2 linked regions of the Homo sapiens genome follow. The protein of the gene in region 1 interacts with the protein of each later gene in a pairwise test. Each region holds a gene or a part of one and is shown on either strand. Other genes may lie near its edges.

The links. Proteins that work in one complex are often made in the same cells at the same time.
Region 2: the proteins of TEX11 (region 1) and MYEF2 interact in binary tests that used the Homo sapiens proteins (3 or more experiments, as listed by UniProt).

What each region holds. Positions count from the first base shown.
Region 1 is NC_000023.11:70,905,336-70,913,214, reverse strand, and holds the start of TEX11 (testis-expressed protein 11), read left to right. Parts: upstream 1-4,503; 5' UTR 4,504-4,561; intron 4,562-5,404; 5' UTR 5,405-5,425; coding exon 5,426-5,462; intron 5,463-7,879. UniProt on the Homo sapiens protein: Regulator of crossing-over during meiosis. Involved in initiation and/or maintenance of chromosome synapsis and formation of crossovers.
Region 2 is NC_000015.10:48,175,272-48,182,502, reverse strand, and holds the start of MYEF2 (myelin expression factor 2), read left to right. Parts: upstream 1-4,207; 5' UTR 4,208-4,265; coding exon 4,266-4,426; intron 4,427-7,231. UniProt on the Homo sapiens protein: Transcriptional repressor of the myelin basic protein gene (MBP). Binds to the proximal MB1 element 5'-TTGTCC-3' of the MBP promoter. Its binding to MB1 and function are inhibited by PURA.

The sequences.
Region 1 (7,879 bases):
AATTTGTCTGATCATGTCCTATGAGCTTTTATTTACTAGAGTATTTGTCTTTTTCTTTTTAATTTGAAGAGCTCTTTTTATGTTAGAGATGTTAAGTCTTTATCTGTTACATATGTTGAAAAAATCTTTTTTTAGTCTGTGGTTTGTCTTTCAACCTTGCTTATAGTGCCACTCAGAAGAGTTATTTTTTATGCAGTAAAACTTACTGTTTTCCCTTTTTGATTTGGGTTTCCAGATCATATTTAGATCTTGCCAACTAGGTAAAATTAAAAAAAAAAAACTACTACGTCTTAGTATATTAATAAAGCTATAAGATATTCACACCTATTTTTAATAGAAATTTTATGATTGGATTTAATTTTTGATTAATGTAGAATTTATTTTGGTATATGAAATGAGAGGTAAGGATCTAGTTTTTTTTTTTAACAAATGGCTCTAAAGTCATTTCAACACTTTTTCTTGAATAATTCTTTGCCCCACTGATTTCAATAATTTCTATGTATATTTGGGTCTGTTTCTGGACTCTATTCTGTTCATTTATCTGTCTGCACTATTACCACACAATTTTATTTGCAATAGTTTTAATATCTGGAAGAACAAGCTCCTCTTCCTCCCTCCATTAATGATTTTGTTTTTAGAATTTTCCTGACTGTAATTGCATGTTTATTCTGGAAGTCTTTCTCTTCTTTTAACAGGGCGTAATGCTACTTTATTAACTAATTTGTGTTCTTGGTTGCTAACTGTCTTTTAATCCACTCTATTGATGAGAGTTTTAATAGGCTCTCATTAGAGTCCAAGCTGTTCAACCATCTTATGTACCATGTATTTCACCATTTCTGTAACATTTTGTTAAAGGGTAGGACAGAAAACTTATAGCTTATGTTAGGAGGGTAAAGGAAGATAATCCACAGCATGTTGAGTGCTACTTAATGGCATTTTACTGCTCACTCTTGCTTATCCACCTCAATATGTACCTGCTTCTTTTATCTGCTCTCCTTTTCTCTCTCTTTTACTTTTTTCTTCTGTTTCTTTTAATTTTCATTTACTTGTAACATCTAGGAAGGCCATCTGGATAAAAACAAACAAAAAAAAATTTGAAGATATCCATGTATTATCAGGGTTTTCACCCTTTCCGTACATTTTCCTTTATTCACTGGCCCTTTCAGTGCACTGGCGTCAGCTCAGTAGCCCTAACTTTGGAGTCATATTTACAACTGGTATTCATCAATAGAATCATGTGATTCCTATATGCCTTATATAATGCTGAATAGTATAATATCCATTCTACCGCAGACGTTATTAATCATTAAGAACTCTAAGATGCATGTGAAAGGGCTGCTTGTAGTCTTGAGAGCTGAGTTCTAATTATCACCTTACTTGTTCATCTGTTCATCCATGAACAAAGAAGCTATGGTGGAACCAGGGGTTTAGGTGGGATAATGGAAGTAGGAAGTTTGTCAACCAGGAAATGGGAAATGATAATGGGAACTAACATTTGTTAAGTGACTACTACTATATGCCAGCCACCCATTGTTCTAGATGCTTTATGTGCATTATTCTATTGAACCAGAAGCCTAGAATTACTTTTATTCCCATTGTACATATGAGGAAATTGAGGTGCTAAGATTGTTTTAATATATACGTATTTTTTTAAATAGAGGCTGGGCACGGTGGCTCACACCTGTAATCCCAGCACTTTGGGAGGCTGAGGCGGATGGATCACCTGAGGTCAGGAGTTCGAAACCAGCCTGACTAACATGGTGAAACCCCATCTCTACTAAAAATACCATAATTGTCTGGGCTTTGTGGCGGGTGCCTGTAATCCCAGCTACTTAGGAGGCTGAGGCAGGATAATCTCTTGAACCCAGGAGGCAGAGGTTGCAGTGAGCTGAGATCGCACCATTGCACTCCAGCCTGGGTGACAGAGCGAGACTCCATTTCAAAAAATAAATAAATAAATAAAATTAGAGATGTGGTCTCATTGTTTTGCCCAGGCTGGTCTCAAACTCCTGGGCTGAAGTGATCCTCCCACCCTGGCCTCCCAAAGTGCTGGGATTACAGGTGTGAGCCACTGCACTAAGCCTCTTTTTAAATTTTAATTATTATTATTATCTTTTTTTGTATGGAGACAAGGTCTCACTATGTTGCCCAGGCTGGTCTTGAACTCCTGGGCTCAAGGATTCCTTCTGCCTCAGCTTCCCAAAGTGTTGGGATTACAGGTGTGAATCACCATGCCCAATTTAGATGCTAAGATTCTTAAAGCTGGCTCAAGGCCACACAGTATATGGTGCATGGAGAGTCAGTCAACTGTGGCATACTCCACTGCTCCTTTTCACCAGAATTCTTTCCCTAATATGGCAATCGAGGGTTATGAAATAAAGACATACCAAACTGCAGGATGCAAAAGAAGAGGAATTAATAGCAGTACTTTCTGTTTTCCCATTTTTCTTCATTGTACTATGCAATCTAGATACAATTTTGAAGAGGGAAAATAAATTACTTTTAGTAACCTCATCTTGTCCACGAGATCTAATGACTGATTCTGAGACTTTCAGGATCAGGAAGGAACTCTGTTAATGTTCCCAGAAACTGGAGCCACAATCTCTCTTCTTTATCCTGTTAGCCAGCTCCATATCTGGCCTGAGGTGCACAAGGCTTAAAAGAGGGGTATATAGGAAGAAGTGGGAGGCTTATTAATGTTTTGATTCTGTGTTTGTCTACAAATCTGGAGGCATCATGTTTTCACACTGTTATCTCTGAGTGGAGATTAGCATCATGCTTAGATTTAGCTGGAATCAAATTTTTACTTACATATTCCACCCCTCAAGCCATTTGGTTTGGAGATGGGTGGGACATGCGAGCTTGCTGTGAGACTGCAGGGGAGTCTCCTAGTTTCCTAATGATTGGACAAAGGCAGGGCAACAGAAACGTCTTGGAACTAAAAGGCTTTTTTTATTTTTATTTTTTATTTTTATTTATTTTATTTTCATTTTTTTTGAGACGGAGTTTCGCTCTTGTTGCCCAGGCTGAAGTGCAATGGTGCCATCTTGGCTCACCGCAACCTCCGCCTCCCAGGTTCAAGAGATTCTCCTGCCTCAGCCTCCCGAGTAGCTGGTTACAGACATGTGTCACCACGCCTGGCTAATTTTGTAATTTTTTAGTAGAGACGGAGTTTCTTCATGTTGGGCAGGCCGGTCTCCAACTCCCGACCTCAGGTGATCCGCCTGCGTCAGCCTCCCAAAGTGCTGGGATTACAGGCGTGAGCCACCGCGCTGGGCCTGTTTATTTATTTATTTTTTGAGACGGAGTTTCGCTCTTGTTGCCCAGGCTGGAGTGCAATGGCGCGATCTCGGCTCACCGCAACCTCTGCCTCCCGGGTTCAAGCGATTCTCCTGCCTCAGCCTCCCGAGTAGCTGGTTACAGGCATGCGCCAGCACATCCAGCCAATTTTGTATTTTTTTTTTTAGTAGAGACGGGGTTTTGCCATGTCGGTCAGGCCGGTCTCCAACTCCCGACCTCAGGTGATCTACCCGCCTCGGCCTCCGAAAGTGTTGGGATTACAGGCGTGAGCCACCGTGCTCGGCCTATTTATTTATTTATTTTTTGAGACGGAGTTTTGCTCTTGTTGCCCAGGCTGGAGTGCAATGTCTCGGCTCACCACAACCTCTGCCTCCCGGGTTCAAGCGATTCTCCCTCCTGCCTCAACCTCCCAAGTAGCTGGCATTATAGGCATGCACCACCACGCCCAGCTAATTTTGTGTTTTTAGTAGAGACGGGGTTTCTCCATGTTTGTCAGGCTGGTCTGGAGCACCCGATCTCAGGTGATCCGCCTGCCTTGGCCTCCCAAAGTGTTGGGATTACAGGCGTGAGCCACTGCCCCCGACTTATTTTTTATTTTTAAGAGACATGATCTCGCTGTCTCCCAGGCTGGAGTGCAGTGGTGGGATCATGGCTTATTGGACCTAAACTCTCAGGCTCAAATGATCCTTCCACCTCAGCCTCCCAAGTAGCTGGAACTACAGGCGTGTGCCACCACACCTGGATTTTTTTTTTTTTTTTTTGGTTCAGGTGCAGTCTGGCTTGTTGATCAGGCTGGCCTCGACTAGTCTCCTCAGCTTCTAATATTTCTGCTATTTCTGACCTTTGCCACTCTTGCATAACCAGTGATCAACAATGTCTACTTGCTTTATTTCTTTTTCTGTTCTTTTTTTTGTGTGTGTGAAGTCCTGCTCTCCTTTTGGTAATCCTGGCCATCTGCACTTTTCCCTCAATTCATTGTCTTATGCTTTCAGAATTACATCATATTTGCTTACTCTCAGTTATTCTCACCCTGAACTCACCAAGTGACTGACTCTCTGAACTGCATCCCCAGGATCTAAGGTCTAGACTGGGTCGCAAGGCTTAGGCTCCGTGACACAGCGTAAAGGCCAAGTGGGAGTGGCTTTAGTGGCCTAGCGTGACACCGCTAGCGTCGCTAGGGGGCGGAGTTTTCTGAACGTCCTCGTGCGCTGTGGACGGAGGTTGTGGAGAGAGCAGGGCGGCATTGGTGGCTGCGGCTGAGGTGAGTGGTTTAGTGGGCAGGAAGGGGTAGAATAGGCTTCAAGCACAAGTTAGTTGGGTAGTTTATAACTAGCAAGAATATATTATAGCCATTAGGCCAAAACTTTTTAGAGCGGCCCTAAGGCAGTGACTTTGTACTACAGAACTGCTCGTCGCTCTCAAGGCGAACGAAGATGGGCAAATGTAATGTTTTTGGACGAGGATTGAGGAGTATGGGGAGCGGTGGTGGGCCACTGAAAACCGGAGATAGTAGTTACTGTAGTTTAGATGCTAAAGGACCTAAATTACGTTGAAGCGGGACTGTTGATGACCGTTGGGGGCAATGTAATGTTTTTTGATGAGGATGGAGGAGTATGGGGAGTTGTGGTGGGCCACTGAAAACCGGAGATAGTAGTTATTGTTGTTTAGATGCTGAAGGACCTAAATTACGTTGAAGCAGGACTGTTCATGACCGTTGGGGGCAGGATACTGAAGGTGCTAGCGTTCTCACAGAGCGGGAAAAAGGACCGTGAGTGATTGGATGCTTTGAATGTGCGGTTGGTAGCGGAAGCGGATTTTGAGCCAATTAGGAAGAAGCAGCGAGACCCAGCCAGACCAATAACAGGGTACCACTCAGCTCCATTTCCCCCGTTGCCAGGCAGACTTATGGTAAGAAAAGGTCCCTTTTATGTAACTTGGCAGCCTGGCCCTGCCCCTCACAAAAGCCCTTTCATGGGCTTTTAACTTTACTCAGCCTTTTTTTCTCCCTTTGGATAACAAGTAACGGGAAACATTTCACTGGAAAGAAATTTGTTGAGAAACTAGAGGATAAAACAGAGTATTAAAATATGTTATTATTTCACAGGCTTGAGCCAGAGATTTAAAAATGGACAATGATGATTTTTTTTCCATGGACTTTAAAGGTACGTAGCTCTACGTGGTAGTACAAAATAGTGTCAAACTGCTGCTTTAAGATCTAAATATTGCTGGGCGCGGTGGCTCACGCCTGTAATCTCAGCACTTTGGGAGGCCGAGGCGGGCGGATCACGAGGTCAGGGGCTCGAGACCAGCCTGACCAACATGGTGAAACCGCGTCTCTACTAAACATACAAAAATTAGTTGGGCGTGGTAATCCCAGCTACTCAGGAGGCTGAGGCAAGAGAATCGCTTGAACCTGGGAGGCAGAGTTTGCAGTGAGCAGAGACTGCGCCACTGCGCTCCAGCCTGGGCGACAGAGTGAGACTCCGTCTCAAAAAAAAAAAAAAAAATCTAAATATTTTGTTTCTGAGTTTTGTCTTTCTGCAGTGTCCATAGCACCAGGTTTTCTCATTTATGTACCAGAAACAATGTCTATTTTTAACACATTGGGAACCTTTTTATGAACTAGTGTAGGGAGACAGAATTCACAATTCATAACTTGTTTTTTTTTCAGGATTTTTATGGCATGCAAAATAAAACGTTTAATCTGGAAGATAAATCTATTGCAATAAAAATAAGTTTAAAAAATTACTGCAAGATCTTGGAGTTCCTTTCCATAATCATCCGTGAAAAATAAATTATATCCTGTGTAGTTTTAGACTTAAGTACATTTTATTGTGTCTTAATTCTTTTGAAAATTGGTAATCCATGTTTGCTATTTATGGGAACTCTCAATAAACAAAAGCAATTTGACTGACCAGAACACCAGATTCCTCAACTGTGCTAGATATAGGAGAGTTTGTGGTACTATCTTTGTTTTTGGGGAATAATGAGACCTGTGGTACCTTCACATTCATATAATAATGAAATATGTGGTAAGAAATGTGGCTACAAATCTATGATTTTAAAAAGTTTAGGTCAACATTTTGTTAATACTTTTTTTTGTTTGCTTGTTTTGTTTGTTTGTTTGTTGAGACAGTTTTGCTCTTGTTGCCCAGGCTGGAGTGCAGTGGTGCCATCTTGGCTCACTGCAACCTCTGCCTCCTGAGTTCAAGCGATTCTTCTGCCTCAGCCTCCCAAGTAGCTGGGACTACAGGCCCGCGCCACCATGCCTGGCTAATTTTTTGCATTTAGTAGAGACAGGGTTTCACCATGTCGGTCAAGCTGGTCTCGAACTCCTGACTTCAGTTGATACACCTGCCTCGGCCTCCCAAAGTGCTGGGATTACAGGTGTGAGCCACCATGCCAGGCCAATATTTGTTATTTTAAAACAATAACAATAAAGCCTGCTACTATCTACTTTAAGTTTTAAATTAGGATAAAATATCTTAAAGGTATAAAGATGGAATAGGGATTATGACTCTTAAGTTGATAATATTTGAGACTTTGTATTTACATAAATATTTGAATCACACAGAAAAGTATAGAAAATAATATAATGAACATCTGTGTACCTACCACTGAGTTTTGTCAAATCTTAAGCTTGCCATATGCTTCAGATATTTCAAAGAACTAAAAGATTACATGTACCATTTTTCTTTTTAAATTTTATATAAATAGTTATTTTATATTTCTTTTTCCTGCAGCTTGTCTTCTTTTTTCCTTTTTTTGCTCAGCATTGTGATATATATATATATATATATATATATATATATATATATATATATTTTTTTTTTTTTTTTTTTTTTTTTTTTTTTTTTTTTTGAGACAGAGTTTTGCTCTTGTTGCCCAAGCTGGAGTGCAATGGTGTGACCTCGGCTCACTGCAACCTCTGCCTTCCAGGTTCAAGCGATTCTCCTGCCTCAGCCTCTCGAGTAGCTGGGATTACAGGCACGTGCCACCATGCCCGGCTAATTTTTTGTATTTTTAGTAGAAACGGGGTTTCACCATGTTGGCCAGGCTGGTCTCAAACTCCTGACCTCAGGTGATCTGCCTGCCTCAGCCTCCCAAAGTCTTAGGATTACAGGCGTGAGTCACTGTGCCAGGCTGTGTTTTTAATATTTACCCATATGAATACTTTTAGTTCATTTATTTCCACTGCTGATGAGTAGTATTTCATTGAACCTAAATGTACCACAATTTATTCATTCAGTCTCCTTTGTTGGACATAAAAATGGTTTCAAATATTTGCTGTTAAAAACAACAATGCTACAACGAACACTGTGTTTCTGAGAGTTTAACAGAAACTTTCAAAAACATCTTTGACTACCACTCATGGCAAGAAAATGTTTTGATTACATCCCAGTACATACATACTGTGTCAAAAGTTTAATAAAACAAAATTTTATCCTCATTACATGCAGTACACTATGATATTTTCTATTCTATTTTTCTCATTAAAAAAATGCTGGGTATTCAGCAAAGGTCTGACTGAAAAGAAATGCTGGGTATGACTCACTACCTCAATACATTGACTGATTTT
Region 2 (7,231 bases), on another chromosome or scaffold:
CATAGCTTTCACCAAACTAGGCTCATAAGCAGCCATCAGGAATGGTGTGACCCTTGAGGAAAAGGGCTGTAATACGGTACAATTTTTGGATTCTGTTTAGTTTCATGAAATGGAGGATCACAGACAGAAATCCAATGGCAATGCCTGAAGGCAATGGAGGTTATTTTCTGAATTATTTGAATAATTGAGGTAAAAGTGGAGTTTCTGCCTGGATTATTCAGATAATTGTCTTAATTCTAAACTTCACTTAGCTAGCTGGTAGAGACCTTTGTATAGGATGTATTTTTGGAATGCTAAATGCTAAAAAAAAAGAACTCCTAAAGTAAGCAGAGCTGTGGTGTAATGAGGGTGTATTGGGGGTGATACAGAGATACGGAGGGAGAGAGAGAGAGAAAGGAGGAAAAGAGAAGAAGAGAGAGAATGGTAAATAGCTAATCGTCAGAATAAGATTAAACTTTACTTTCTACTTGATAGTAACCAATGTCCACATTTTCATCACAGAATGAACTTTCTATAAAAAGGGAAATACATATGTAGATTTCAAATATAAACCATAGTATTTTAAAAAGTTACGAATTCCTTTTTAAGCTTTAAAGAGGTAAATTTTTACTTTGTAAGGTTTAGAAACTTCATGCCTTCAAATCCAGCAATTTATATAGTGAAGCAAATTGACTTAAAAATTATACCATACTTTTTGTTTTACTTCATATTGTTGGTCTTTGCCGTTTAATTCTTTTTTCTTTTTTGAGTTTCTGAATACCCCAGAGAAGGTAATCTATTTATTATGAATTCTAGGGCTAGAATATCAGCACAAATATGGAAGTATTTTTAGAAGCTATTGTCACCATAGAAATGTTAGCCACCATTTTTGTCTAGTTTCTTTTTCTTTTAAATTTTATTATTATCCCTAAAACTTAATTCTTAAAGACAAAATAAATTAAAAAAAAGAAGAATGATGACATCCATTCTCTTCTTCATTGGTAACAGAACCCTGGGCAGTAAGCCCAGCCCCCAAATTATTTGCCAACCTCCCCCACAGATGAGTGTGTCATGTGACTAAGTTCTTGCCCATAAGCGGAAGTGTTGTGTGAGACTTCTGGATAGGTCCCTTTTTTTCTGGACTCCTTCTGACCTACAATGCCGACAAGGTGCCTCGATCTCCAGCAGCCATCTTGGGTCATAGGGCAACCTTAAGAATGGAAGCCTCACACTAGGATGGCGAAAGATTAAGGTAGCAGGAACCTGACTTCACGATGACTGTGAAGCTACTATATATCCTCTGGGATGCTCCTTCTGCATTTATTTTACTTAAGAGAGTAAAAATGTATATCTTGCTTAAGACACTATTATTTCTAGTTATTGTTATTAGCAGATGAACACAATTCCTAAGTGATACATATATTAAGGTATTAATTGAAAATATTTTGTGATTTCTAGGATTAGATTTCTAGATACGTGTAATAGCTTTTCCCCTATCCCGCCAGGTACACACACATAAACATGCATTCTAATTTGTAAGAAAGAAAACTAAGTGATTATGTGAAGTTGTACCAGTAATATATTTTGTGCAATTGCAAAGGATAATGCTTTTGCAATGTGAATCATGGGAAAATAAGAATTTGAGCATCACTTAAGAATTTTTCAATGTACCTACATGCACTAAAAAACAAACAAACAAAAAACAAAAAACCAAGGCCGGGCGCTCTGGCTCACGCCTGTAATCCCAGCAATTTGGGAGGCCAAGGCAGGCAGATCACAGGGTCAGGAGATGGAGACCATCCTGGCTAACACGGTGAAACCTGTTTCTACTAAAAATACAAAAAATTAGCCGGGCCTGCTGGCGGGCGCCTGTAGTCCCAGCTACTCAGGAGGCTGAGGCAGGAGAACGGTATGAACGCGGGAGGTGGAGCTTGCAGTGAGCAGAGATGGCGCCACTGCACTCCAGCCTGGGTGACAGAGCGAGACTCCATCTCAAAAAAGACAAAACAAAACAAAACAAACCAAAACAGTAGAGAGGAAGACAAGCAAATACAGAAATGGAATTCAGCAACAGAATATTAATAGTTTTTTCTTTATCTTTTGCAATTAATAGCAAGAAAGGAAGGAAAGATCAATCTATTGAGCAGTCAGATGGAATGGTAAAGATTAATCATTCTCTTCCCTTCAGAAGTTGCCTTAATTCTTTGTCTTTTAAGATCCAGCTCTTTTATAAGGCCCTCACCAATCTCTCAGTAGGAATTAACCTCTGCTCTTTATCAGGACTAGAACCAAGCTACAGCGGGTGAGGCATTTGTCTTGGGTACAAAAGTTAAAACTCAGTAATCAAGATAAATATTTTAATGGAATATTTTAATTGGCAAACTAAGGCATGTGGGCCAGTCTCCTGTTTTTGTAAATAATTTTTTAATTATACTTTGCTTTTATTTGTATTATAGCACTTAAATAGTACTTTTTACATTAGCCCTCTCCCAACAGGGCTGTACTCATTTTTGTATTCCTCATGTACCTACTACTCTGTTTGAAGCATAAAGGCCTCTTAAAAAAATCTTGCATTGAGTTGATTAAAGGATTTTTGCAAGAATATATTGTACTGGTGATGGTGGGGTTCAATTTTCATACTGAATTCAACAATAGCAAAAGAATAACAGAATGATGACTATTTTGAAAGTACTTATAATTTAGTGCTGTGGGAAAAATCACTTGGCTTGTCTTTGACTAAAACCCTGCTGAGCTTAGGGAGATAGAGAATTGTAATATTACATTATGTTCATATAGCACTTTTTCCTACATAAAGTGCTTTCTTTTAATCCTCACCTCAATCCTGTAAGGTCGGTATTGCTATCCCTATTTATTGTAGAGAGATTGAGAAATGAGGTGACTTGCCCAGGGAGTTATGGGCAAAAAGAGGCAGAGCTGGGGTTCTAACCCAGATTTTGTCTGTCACAATTGAATGCCCTTTCTGCGATTATAAATCTTATGTCTCAGAGTTGAATGAGAAACAATTTATACAGCAACTACAATAGCATTCTTATCATTAAAATGTTCTGATTATGTGTGTGTGTGTTTGTGTATGTGTGTGTGTGTATGTGTGTGTGTGATGAAGTAGCTGAACTTGGTATTTTTCGGTAGAGGGTAGGAAACTACACATTGAAAAGCCGAAGATGAAATTATGTTATTTGAGTATTACTTTCTAACTATAACTTTACCACTGATGTGTGTATGATATTCTGCAAAGTGACTAAACTGTACGTGTTTGCTTCTTCATGGAAAAAAAATTTGGGAAGGCATTTAAACTTTTCAGCTGAAAAAGGTTATGTCAATGTGAAAGATTATAGTACTCGAGAATTAGGAGTTGATTAAATTTAACGGTTTCCTTTTCATACTTAGGGGGAAAAATCTACGACTGTATTTTAAAACTCCATATGGCAATTAAATTTGAGAGCGTATAACTAACTACTTCACTAGAATTTCCATCAGTATACAATAAACACACAGTCAAAACCTCAAATGTCCATTATTAGCCCATCTAGTAGACGATATTTTATAATTATGGATTCCCCATATTGATTGATGTCCAGAGAAAAACTGCAGTCTTCTCTTACTAAGCTGATAGTTGAGTTCCTGGGAAATCCTCACCCCCTAAGAACAAATAATTCTCAAAGAAATTCAAAGTCATTCCTTTTGGTGAATTGCAATCAGTCATCAATAACTATTTATGGAATGTCCGAAGGGTGCCTAGGCATTGAAATGGCAAGAGACTTATATTTGCTTAATTCAAAGGATTTCTAAAGGCAGTCTGAGGACTTGCAAGAAGTCTTTAAAGATGCAAAGTGGTGTGTTCTTTAACTGCCCCTACCTGGAATGAATTGAACAGTCTGGGTGTTAGGGCTTTGATGTCTAATCCCGCTTTGCAAGCGAAGACTCCACTGGTGCCAAGCGACAGGCGGGCTGGTGGGCAGACATGGCACCACCACCGGGGGCTTTCAGGACTGGTCCAGCCCTCCCAGGCAGGTGTAGGGCCGACTGCAGCAACAGCGGCCCTGACCCCAGCTCCCATGGCTCCCCTCCCCCCGCACTCCCACCCCCCGCACCCGGCACACACCATCTCCCAGTCACCCAGTCTCGACCGGTTCTCGCGAGATCCGGGTTACTGAGCGCTCGGGGCCTTTTCAAATCGGGATCCGTTACCGCTTCCCCGGCAGCCGCCATTGTCGCGCTCGGAGCCCCTCAGCTCAGGCGGCCGAGGCGGAGGCAGCGGCGGCGGGATGGCGGACGCCAACAAGGCCGAGGTGCCCGGGGCCACTGGTGGCGACAGCCCGCACCTGCAGCCCGCAGAGCCGCCGGGCGAGCCGCGGCGAGAGCCGCACCCCGCGGAGGCGGAGAAGCAGCAGCCGCAGCACAGCAGCAGCTCCAATGGCGTTAAAATGTATTGTCTTTTCCTCCGGGAACCGGGGCGAGGTGGGGGGCGGGGAGTCTACCGGGCGGCTAGAGGCCGGGCTGTGCCCCGATGGGGGACAACCACCCCCAGACCCCGGCCCGCCCCCGGGCCATCGGCTTCCTGAGGAGCAGGTGCAGCTGGGCCGCTCCCAGGCCCTTCCCCGCCCGCCCCAGGCCTGGCCGCCTGTGGTCTGGGAGCCGGGGCTGGGGGCCCGGGGACCAGCGCTCTTCCCTGATTTCTAGCCCGAGACAGCGAACACCCCTCTTCCCTGACTTTGGTTAAAGAATCTTTGAGCAAAGCTCAGCGACCGCCACGGTTTGCAGGAAAATGGTCCCCCTTTAAGGACCAGTAGTTAGTGTTCATCACTAGGGAGTATCTAGGGATGACATCATCGGACATTTCCTCTTAACCACCGAGAACATATTTAAAAGGAATATTCCTGGCTTCTTTCTGAGCTTCACAAGTTTAGTGTTTTGTTGTTTTCTAAAGTGTATGTTCATTTTTAAACTGATTTATACCGAGAGGAAGTTTAATAATGTGCTGTTAGACTCTATGTTTTGTGTTACTCTTGAATTGGCTAGACGTACTTTAAAAAGGGAAATGTGCGATGTGCGTGGCTTCCCTTCCCACTGGGTAATGTGCGTCAGCTGTGGAGAGTATTTTTTTTTTTAACTCAGTGTATGATTATCTTAAGTTTGGTATAATAGATGGTTAAGATTTTTTTTTTCCCAAATGAAGGAAGACTTTTAAGGTCGCAGCTGTCACCAGTGCCTATAAAGAATTTAGTTGACCCCAATCCATAATAATTTCTGGTTCTAGGGAAATGTTATGCTCTCCTTTGTTCCTGTCCTGTGGGAGGATATGAAGTTAAGCGCTTACTTTCATATGCCTACCTCCTTAAACCTGAAGTTGAAAGTATGTTAATAATTAAGTGAAAACATCCTTTTCCTTCTCTGTTATGCCTCAGAGCAGAAAGCAATAGATATATGCTCACAGTAAAATAGACAAGGGAAAGGTCTTTCTGACCTTTGTATAAGCATGTTTGAAATTGTATGGTAAGAACTGGACCAGTCTGTGTAAAAGTTGGTGGCAAAAAAGATGGGGTAGCTCTCCCCAGCTCTTTGACACTCTTGCTCTCAAATGAGTTTGAACAGGATCGGCAGCATCTTCTAGGAGAATAGAGGTGCAGGTATAAGAGATTGGAACTTAGTGGAGTTTATTCCTGGATGAAGAGTGGTGCACCTCAGTAATTGAGGAACCAGAAAGGGAATGAAGTGCTTTCTACCATGCTTGCCAAAATGTGGGCTTTCTGGAATTTGGCATTAAAAATAGAAATGAAAACCGGTGGAATGATAAACTTAAAAATATGTGCTATTCATATCTAAACACGAGTATACATGCCACCTTTTCTCCTGAACAAAAAGTGCAGCCTTGAATTACAGAGAGAAGCCCTCCTATACTTGGGTATGATTAGTTTTGATATAGGGGAAGTTTGGTATCTAAACCTCCATCAGATTTTCTATTCCCTTCTAAAGTCTCTTCATGATTTAGCAAGACAGGAAAAGAGAAAGGAGAAAGGTGGAGAAAGAATCCTTTTCTAATTTAGGAAGAGAAAAATATAAGGTGAAGAAATGAAGAAATATTACTAGTAAATACAGATTATTTCCATATTGCTTATAATTCGCCTCTCCCTTTCTCTTTTTCCCAGAAGTTGAATCGAGTCCAATTTACTCTCAGGGATTTCTCTTACTGTCTATTCCATAAGAAGATTTGTGATGGTCCAGCATGAGTCATTCAAACTGAATAACTAGCGACCTAGTCCTTTTTTTTTTTTTTTTTTTTTTTACTTCGTGAACTAGTAGGAGTGGATAACAACCCCAATACATAAACCTTGAGTTGATTACCATATACTTTTAATAATAAAAATAATTCATTGTTGATTATAAAAATTACCATAATATTGCCCCAAATTATGTATTGGTTGGAATTGAACAGAGTACTGCTTGTCATCAGGATTGAAATAATATTTGCTGAGGTTAATCCATAGTTATTGAGGGTGGGAGACCACTATGTCTTATTCTTCTTTGTATTCTTAAGGCCTAGTAAATATTTGTGGAAGAAATGCAGAAGTGAACTTTCATGCTTATGAAACTCATATACAGGGAATTTAGTTTGCATATTCACACCTTTAGAAAAGATCCGTTTTCCAACTGTAGTCTTCTTCTTTAACGCCAAATGGTATACTAGCTCTCCTTTTCTTAAAAATGAATAGGAGGGAAAAGAGCAGTATTATTATAACTTTATTATTCATGTGTAATTAAGTATAACTTTGGAGTAGGTAGAGATTGAGAGTTATATTAGGGTACTATAAAATATTAAGCATTGGAGCAAGGTAATGTGTTCTTTAGCTGAGTGATTTTTATTAGGAATAAAGACTAGAACTGTTTCCCCCAGCTTTATTGAGGTAAATTGACAAAAATTGTATATTTTGAAGTGTACAGTGTGATGGTTTGGTATACAAATAAATTGTGAAATGATTACCACAATCACGCTAATTAACGTATCTGTTACCTCGCATAGCTACCATATTTTTTGGTGTTGAAAATACTTAAGATCTATTCTTTAAGCAAATTTCAAGTATACAGTAAATATGTTAAGTATAGTCACTATACTGTACCTTAGATCTACAGAACTTACTCATCTTATAACTGAAAGTTTGTGCCCTTAGAACATTTCCCCATCCCCTGCTGCCCTCCACCTCTGGTAAACACCCTTCTACTCTCTGCTTCTGAG